Homo sapiens: one gene and its partner. The protein of the gene in region 1 purifies or fractionates together with the protein of each later gene. This does not show direct contact. Each region holds a gene or a part of one and is shown on either strand. Other genes may lie near its edges.

Region 1 (4,426 bases):
CACCTACCTCGCTGTTGGCTGTTCTGTTCCCTGCAGGCTCTTGGTCCATTACAGCAGCATCTGTAGGAGACGGAAGTCAACAAAAGAGCTCGGAGGGCACTTCTGGGTCCTCATTTCATAAGCAGATACCAACAAACAGGGGGAGGCCATAGGTGCCTGAGGTCCCTCAGTTGCCAACAGCAGACTCAGACATTCTATCTCTCTGAGCTCAAGGACCCATCCCATGAATAGCTCTGAGTTCCCATCCCATTGATTCTGTCTCCCACTTTCTGCCTGTCATGGAACCTTCTCCTGGATGTGAGTGGCTGCAGGGGACATGAGGATACAGTTCAGAATCAGGCAACGGTCTGTGAGCTGAAGGCAGGGGCAGGGAGTCTGGTGCTCTCTCTAGAAAGTCCTGCCTCTGTGGCTCCTGTCTTGGGCCAGGGACCATCCTGCCAGTGAGGAACACACAGCTGTGTGCTCCCATCCTGCTTCCCCACATGGCCCTGAGCTCTCTGGCCTGTGCCCCGTGAGACTTACTTTTTTTGTTGGAGCACCAGAGATGAAGGAGAAAGAAGAGGAGGAGGATGAAGAGGATGATGACCACTGAGGTCCCAATCAGAATGTGCAGGTGTCTGGGGTTACCTGGAAGAAGAGGAGACACCAGTAAGAAGCTAATCATAGCAGTTTCTCTATATGAATTGTCTTGCATTTCTTGATTGACAGGTAACCACTTACAGCATCTCTTTCGGACAAGCACCCAGATGGCGGGAGATCTAGCTTCCTCCTGCTTTCTCAGTTATAGCTCTCATAGTAACCATGGAACGTGCTGAGGATACAACTACTTTAGTTGAGATGTTTGACCCCTTCAAACCTCACATTGAAATTTAACCCCCAGTGTGGGAGGTTGGGCCTCTTGGGAGGTGTTTGGGTCATGGAGGTGGATCCATCATGAACAGATCAATGCTGTCCCAAGGAGACGGGGTTAGCAAGTTCCCTCTCTATTAGTTCCTGGAGAGCTGGTTGTTAAAAAGAGCTTGGAAGCTCCATTGCTCCCCCTCCCCCTTGCTCCCTCTCTTGCCGTGTGATCTCTGTGGTCTCTGCACAGACAGACCCTCCTTCCCTTCTGCCAGAGTGGGAGCGGCCTGAGGCCATCATAAGAAATAGATGCTGGTGCCATGCTTCCAGTACAGCCTGCAGAACGGTGAGGCAAACCAATCTCTTCTTTAGAAGTTACCCAGGCTCAAGTGTTCCTTTAGAGCAACAAAAATGGACTAAGACAGCAAAGTCCTGAGATCAGGAGGATTGTCCCAGAACAGCCTGGGCTGTCTTCCTGTTCTTCCTGGAGGAGGACGTCATGCAGTGCTTTAGCTGAGTGCTTCCTGTGGCTCCAGGGTACAAAACCCAGGCTGGGCTGCTTTCTGGCTTCCCCCAGCTACACTGCAAATGGGGTGACTCCACATGTCTCGAGCAGCTTTTCTGAGCCTTGGGGAACTGGCTCACATTGAAATGTAGGCTTCTGTTGTCACTCGCTGCTTATCTGTTAGTAATGAACCTGCCTATGTAACGTATTCTCTGTGTGTTCTGTCTCCCTGGAGTGACGGTGAGTGATAGGAATTGGCATAGGCCCAGGTGCAGTCCAGGAGGTGTTTAGAGTCTTCTCTGGGAAGACTGGACTGGGATTGATACACAGCGAATGTGCTTTAGGATTTCTACATCCACGGCATTCTTGAGTTAAACAACTTGCATTCTCCAAGAAAAGGAAACAAAAGTGAAATCAATATAAAAAAAGCGAAGTAGAATTCTCTTATGTCAAACAGCCAGAAAATAGTGTTGAAGCCCGTGTGAAATGTGCTACTCTTTGTGATCTCGGGAGACACATGTTAGGCTGCTGTTCTACCTCAGAGGCTGGGGGAAGGACCACCCCCTCGACTATCTATTGCTTCAATACCACCTGTCCTCCTGTGAATTAGTAGGAAAGGGGAGCAGGAGCTAGTGCTGGCACTGATCTCTGATTCCAAGATCTGGACTCACTCCAAGGAGTATTAGCATTTACCTCCCCATGATCTATCTGTATTTCCACAGGTGATTGGAAGTAGGGGTGAGATGGGGGATTTGGGTGAGGGGGCAAGTTTTTTTTGTGATGACCAGAGCACTTTCTCTATTCCAGGATTTGTGCTGGAGGATTCAGCGGGCTTTCACATTTTCTATATGATCTCATGCTCACAGAAAGCCAAATACGGAAGAGGTTTTAGGCTGATTGCCTAATGGATAAGATAAAGGATCAAAGAAGTAATTATAGAGAAATAGAAAAATGATGATGGGAATTCAGGTGCCTTTGTCATTCGTGTGTGTTTTATTATATTTATGCATTTCTTATTTTTATTTTTTGAGATGGAGTCTCCTTGTGTCACCCAGGCTGGAGTGCAGTGATGCGATCTCCACTCACTGCAACCTCCACCTCCTGGGTTGAAGTCATTCTCCTGCTTCATCCTCCAGAGCAGGAGCTGGGATTACAGGGATGCACCACCATGCTCGGCTAATTTTTGTATTTTTAGGAGAGATAGGGTTTCACCATGTAGAGATAGGGTTTCTCCATGTTGGCCAGGCTGGTCTCGAACTCCTGACTTCTTGGAATCCACTGGCCTTAGCCTCCTGCAGTGCTGGGTTACAGGAGTGAGCCACCGTTCACAGACTTGTATACTATGCTATAATAGGTCCCTTCATTTCCACCACCCCTCATATATCTGTCACTCCTTTGCCAGGTATTGATTTATGTGTAGGAGGAATAAATCTCAGAAAGAAATTAATTTAGCAAGGATTAAACAACTAGGAAACTCAAACCCAGCAAGCCCTCCCTGCAAATGATTCTACCTCCCAAACATAGCTTATATCCATCTGCTTCATCCACTTAGGGTCTAAATCAGCACCACATTTCACCAGTGGGGCGGCAATTGCCTTTTCCACTGTCTCCTAGATTCCAGTTACGCACCTGGGCCTCCCTTATTTTCATGTCAGTCACTATTAATCATGTAGGGATTCCTGGCTACCCCGAGGTGAATCCAATGGCTGTGAGTGTCAAACACACACTCCTTGTTGCTCCTTAGTTTCCTGTGTACCCAGTGTGCTCTCCGTCTCTCCACAGTCGTCTTGTCATTCTCCCCACCTCATTCCCAGCATTTCAGGCAGAGCCTCTTCCTTCCACATCAGATTGTTTTCAGCTTTCTGCCTTCACGGCTGACAGCTGTGTGTGGAAAATCCTTCCGCCAATCTTTCAGGGGTTCAATCCGTGTTTTTCATTAATGTCACAAATATCTGATTAGTGAGACCTTCTCTGTCACCCAAAATTATACACTCAGCATTATCTATTATTTATTTTGAATTCTGGCTGGGCAAAGTGGCTCACGCCTGTAATCCCAGTACTTTGGGTTGCTGAGATGGTCGGATCACTTGAGGTTGGGAGTTTCAGACAAGCTTGGCCAACATGGTGAAACATCCTCTCTACAAAAAATATACAAAAAGAATTAGCCGGGCATGGTGGCAGTTGCCTGTAATCCCAGCTACTCGAGAGGGTGAGGCAGGAGAATCACTTGGATCCAGGAGACGCAGGTTGCAGTGAGCCAAGATCGTGACACTGCACTGTAGCCTGGAAGACAGAGGGAGACTCTGTCTCAATAAATAAATGAACGAACAAACAAATAGATTTCATGCACAGATGCTTCCCAATGGATCATTCATTTATTGGTCCACTTGTGCACTCATTTTCTGTCCTCCCATTTAACCATCTGCAATATCAGTGTCCCAAGAGCAGAGGCCAAATGCATCTTGTTCACCGTTCGTGGAAGGCAGGAGAATGCTGTCCCACCCCAAAATGTCCCTGTCCTGGCCTCCATAGCTTGTGAATATCTTATTTTACATGGAAAGAAGGAATGAAGATTGCAGATGGAATTACGGTTGCTAGTCAGCTGAACTTAAAACAAGGGTATCCTGAATGATTTCCGGGAGATTATGATGGATTTTCATCTTGGTGAACCCAATAGAATCCCCAAGTTTTCAAAAGATAAGGAAGAAGGGAGAGCAGCATTCAGAGAAAGAGGTGTGGTAAGGAAGAAGGGTCTGAGTGATGCCATGTGAGATGTGACCAGTCTTTGTGGGCTTTGAGGAAGGAGGAAGGGGACCAGGAGCCAAGGAACTGGGAGCCTTTAGAAGCTGGGACAAGTGAGAAGCAGATTCTTGCCTGGAATCCTCAGAGGGAAGGCAGCCTTGCTGTCACCTTGATTTTAGCCCAGTAAGATGCACTTCCTACTTTGAGCTACAGCACTGTAAGATAATTAAAAAACCGTTTTGTTTTCACCCACGAATCTTGTGGAAATTTGTTATGGCAACAATAGGAAAGGATTCCAACTGCACAGCCTGAGCATGGGGCCGTGGCTGAATGAGTCAG
Region 2 (3,500 bases), on another chromosome or scaffold:
GGTGGGAAAGACTCCCCTGGCTGAGTTTGGGGAGAAGGGGTCTCACTACAGTATTCTGGCAGTTTTTCCCCTAAGTGAAGGGAACTCTCACCTGGTTGGGTGGGCTCCCATTTCTAGTGGTGGGTCACCCTGACAGTTATACGGAGGGGGCCTCTCACCTGGATGACCGAGTGGCCTATGGGGCTATTCTCAGATAGTTCGGCCTCATAGGAGGGCCGCTCAAACTTGGGGGCGTTGTCATTGGTGTCAAGCACGGTGACACGCAGCAGGGCACTGCTGGCGCGTGGGGGGCTGCCGCCATCCTGCACCTTGATGGTGAGGTCATAGGAGTCCCAGCGCTCACGGTCCAGGTTGCCCATCACAATGAGCTGTGGTTGCTTCTCCTCCTGGTCCTCTGCCACCTGCAGCCCAAATAGCTCCTGGGCCTCAGGCCCAGCCTGCAGCTCATAGGATGCCACACCGTTGGGACCAGCATCACGGTCTGAAGCCAGCGGGATGGGGAAGAGTGAGCCGATGTTGGTGTTCTCAGGGATGGCCAGAGTGATGACTGGTGAGGCGAAGTTGGGTGTGTTGTCATTGATGTCTTGTACTTCTATCTGGCCCTCTAGCAGCCGGGGGCTGCCATTCTGCACGAGGTCTGTGATAGATACCTCAAACTCCAGGATGCAGGGATCACCAGGGAGCTGGTTCTGGCATTCACGGAGCCCCTCACGGTCGATGGAGGTCTCGGTGGTGAAAATGTCACCTGTCTTGCCATCCACGCGAAGGTACGGGGCACCCACCTCTAGCTTGTACAGGTGCCCCACATCTGGAAAACCATAGTCGGCTGCGAGGCTCCCAATGAGGGTGTTGGGTGGCTGTTCCTCCGGCACCTTGTACACTACCCGAGTGGCGTGGCCTGGGGATGGAGCCAGCAGGAGCAGCAGTGCTAGCAGCATGGAGGGCAGCAGTAGCCGTTGCCCCCCAGGGCCTGGGCTGTGCCTCAGGTGCTCCATCCTGGGAGGCCCCAGAATCAGGAGGGCTGCAAGGGGAAGAGGCAAAACAGAGGCCATGAGCTGGGAAGAAAAGCCTGGCCCTGAGCTGCCCAGAGCTGGCCCCATACTCACCCTCTCCCACTGACACACGATTCTCCACAAGAGCAGTCAGTCCCAGCACAGAACCCCGATTCCAGAAACTCAGATCCCTGAATCTCATCCACAGCTGGGTGTAGCAGCAGTGTCTGCCCCAGCTGGAGGAGCCAGTAAGAGGCCTGGCATGCCTAGAGCAGCTCCCGCCCATGGAACACCCTCACCCACCTGACGCTCCCTGGGCCCAAGCCCGGCTGCCCGCCCTCTTTCCTTCTTTTCCTCCTTGCTCTCTGCTCTGTGCTTCACCCAACACCTCCTTCTCACGAGCATCCTGCCTTAGTCACCGATGGTAATTACCTTGATACTGAGATAGGGAGAGAGAGCCAGTGGAAGGGTGAGACCTCGAGCATCCCCAACTGGAGCACCCCTCCCCACATGCATGGTAGGAAAGAGACACAAGTACGTCCTTACACACCCCAGACCCTGGGACCTTGACTTGTCACACTGGGCTCCATTAAGGTTGGCTGGAGGGAGAGGGGATGATGTCTCATTTCTCTTTGTTCTGAGATGCCAAGTCAGTGCATATGCATGAGGTATGACATCTCAAATCCTCTTTTTCTGACAATCACCCACGGTGCCCAGTATTCTCCACCCCCATAAAAGGCCAGCTTGAATTGGGCAAGGCTTGTGAAAATGGTTAGGGTTGAGGAGTAGGTGTTAGCCTTCCCGACTTTCCCCCAACACATATGCCCCAGAACGTGCACACAGGCCACAGAGCGTGCACACATGCCCCAGAGCATGCACACATGCCCCAGAGCATGCACACAGGAACATGCACAGTTGCTAGGGCTCCTCTCCTCTCCCTCCTGCTGCCATGGGCAGGTGCGTACAAGGGAACACAGGTCAAGATTGGGGTCAGAACTGTGGTCAGGGCTGACTAGCCCTGGAATTGGCATTGGGAGCTGCCCTGGCCTGTCCTTAGCAACAGGGAGCCCAGCAGGTCTAACTGGGACAGAGCTGCCGATGATAATGACACCAGCAGCCTTTCCCTGGCCACTCCCCCACCCCACACCCTCTGGTCTCTGGATGAACATCTGGCTCTTATTTGACATCCATCTCCGTATATCCAGCCCCTACTTCACACTTGCCTCTCCCAACCTCTGCCCTAGTCAACCACAAGCTGTACCCCATCACAACAATAACCCCCTTCTTCTGCCCATCTCCCCTGGCTTTGAGGTCGTGCATTTGCAGATCCCAGCTAGACCCAGCTACTGTCTCTGTCTTGAATGCCCCCTCCTCTCCAACAAAATCATGGCCAGTCCCTCCTTTATTCAAATCCAAAATCTTTGGATCAGCAGTTTCTTTGGAGGCTTCTGGTTCAGTCTCCTTTCCCCACTTCCTCACTTTTACCTGGAATACCTTCCCCACACCTGGAACACCCACCCCACATCAATCCCACTGAGGGCAGGCTCTGGCCCTCCAGGAAACCTTCACAGTCCTCTCCTGCCCACGGTGACCTCTCCTTCCTCCAACTCACAGCCACTTATTGTCTGCTCCAATCCCAAGGCAATGAATCATGGGGCTGACTGGGACACCGCCCGCCTGTGTTGTTCAGCTTCAGTATTGTGCACCTATTCCTGAGTTCTCTGCCTTTCCAGGCAAACACAAAGCACTACGAAGGAAGGGACAGTACTCTGTACACTCACTCATCCCCTGCCCCCTAACAATGCACCTTTGCACATCTGGGTACACTGTAGGGACTCAGTCATGCATTCAACAAATGTTTATTGGGCATTTACAATATGCCAGGCTCTGTCCTGGGCACTGGGATGCAGAAGTAAACAAGACTGGTCCAATCTGCCATGACAGTGCTTCTAACTCAATGACTATTTGTCCATTTTGTTTGGTTGCTTCTGTATACCATTTGGCGAATGTAAGGCAGCAGGGTGGAGAAGAGCGAGGGTTGTGGCATTAGACAGTCTGAGGCAAACCCAGCTGCTCACTTCCTGGCTGCATGACCTGAAGCAAAGATTTAGTGCCTCAGTTTCCTTACCTGTAAAATGGGGATAATACTACCTATTTCCTAGGGTGTTTGAGATACTGTGGGCTAAATGTGGGTACTCAACAAAGGACTCCTTCAAAGCATTTAGCACAATTGTAGTTGTGTACCTGTTTGGAAAATGTGTTAATTGTCTGTCTTTGCTCCAAGATGGTGAGCAGAAAGCAGGAGAGTTTCTACTTTGTTTGCTCCTACCTCCTCAGGGCTTAGCCCTGGACCTGGCACACAGTGGGCACTTGGCAGCTCTTGAATGACTGTTGTTATTTTGCTCTCTAGGCTTAGCCTTTCCTGGTACTTGCTGTGTGACCACTGCTCTTTTACTTGCTCACTTACCCGATTCCCCTACACCACTAAGAACTTCCTGGGGTAAAATG

What was found. Proteins that work in one complex are often made in the same cells at the same time.
Region 2: the proteins of KIR3DL1 (region 1) and PCDH1 purify together in Homo sapiens (affinity purification with mass spectrometry; one large-scale study listed by BioGRID and IntAct). This does not show direct contact.

Annotation. Positions count from the first base shown.
Region 1 is NC_000019.10:54,825,562-54,829,987, reverse strand, and holds part of KIR3DL1 (killer cell immunoglobulin-like receptor 3DL1 isoform 1 precursor), read right to left. Parts: intron 628-4,426; coding exon 523-627; intron 61-522; coding exon 8-60; intron 1-7. UniProt on the Homo sapiens protein: Receptor on natural killer (NK) cells for HLA Bw4 allele. Inhibits the activity of NK cells thus preventing cell lysis.
Region 2 is NC_000005.10:141,868,411-141,871,910, forward strand, and holds part of PCDH1 (protocadherin-1 isoform 2 precursor), read right to left. Parts: intron 1,218-3,500; exon of another isoform or gene 1,195-1,217; coding exon of another isoform or gene 1,107-1,194; intron 1,022-1,106; coding exon 159-1,021; intron 69-158; exon of another isoform or gene 1-68. UniProt on the Homo sapiens protein: May be involved in cell-cell interaction processes and in cell adhesion.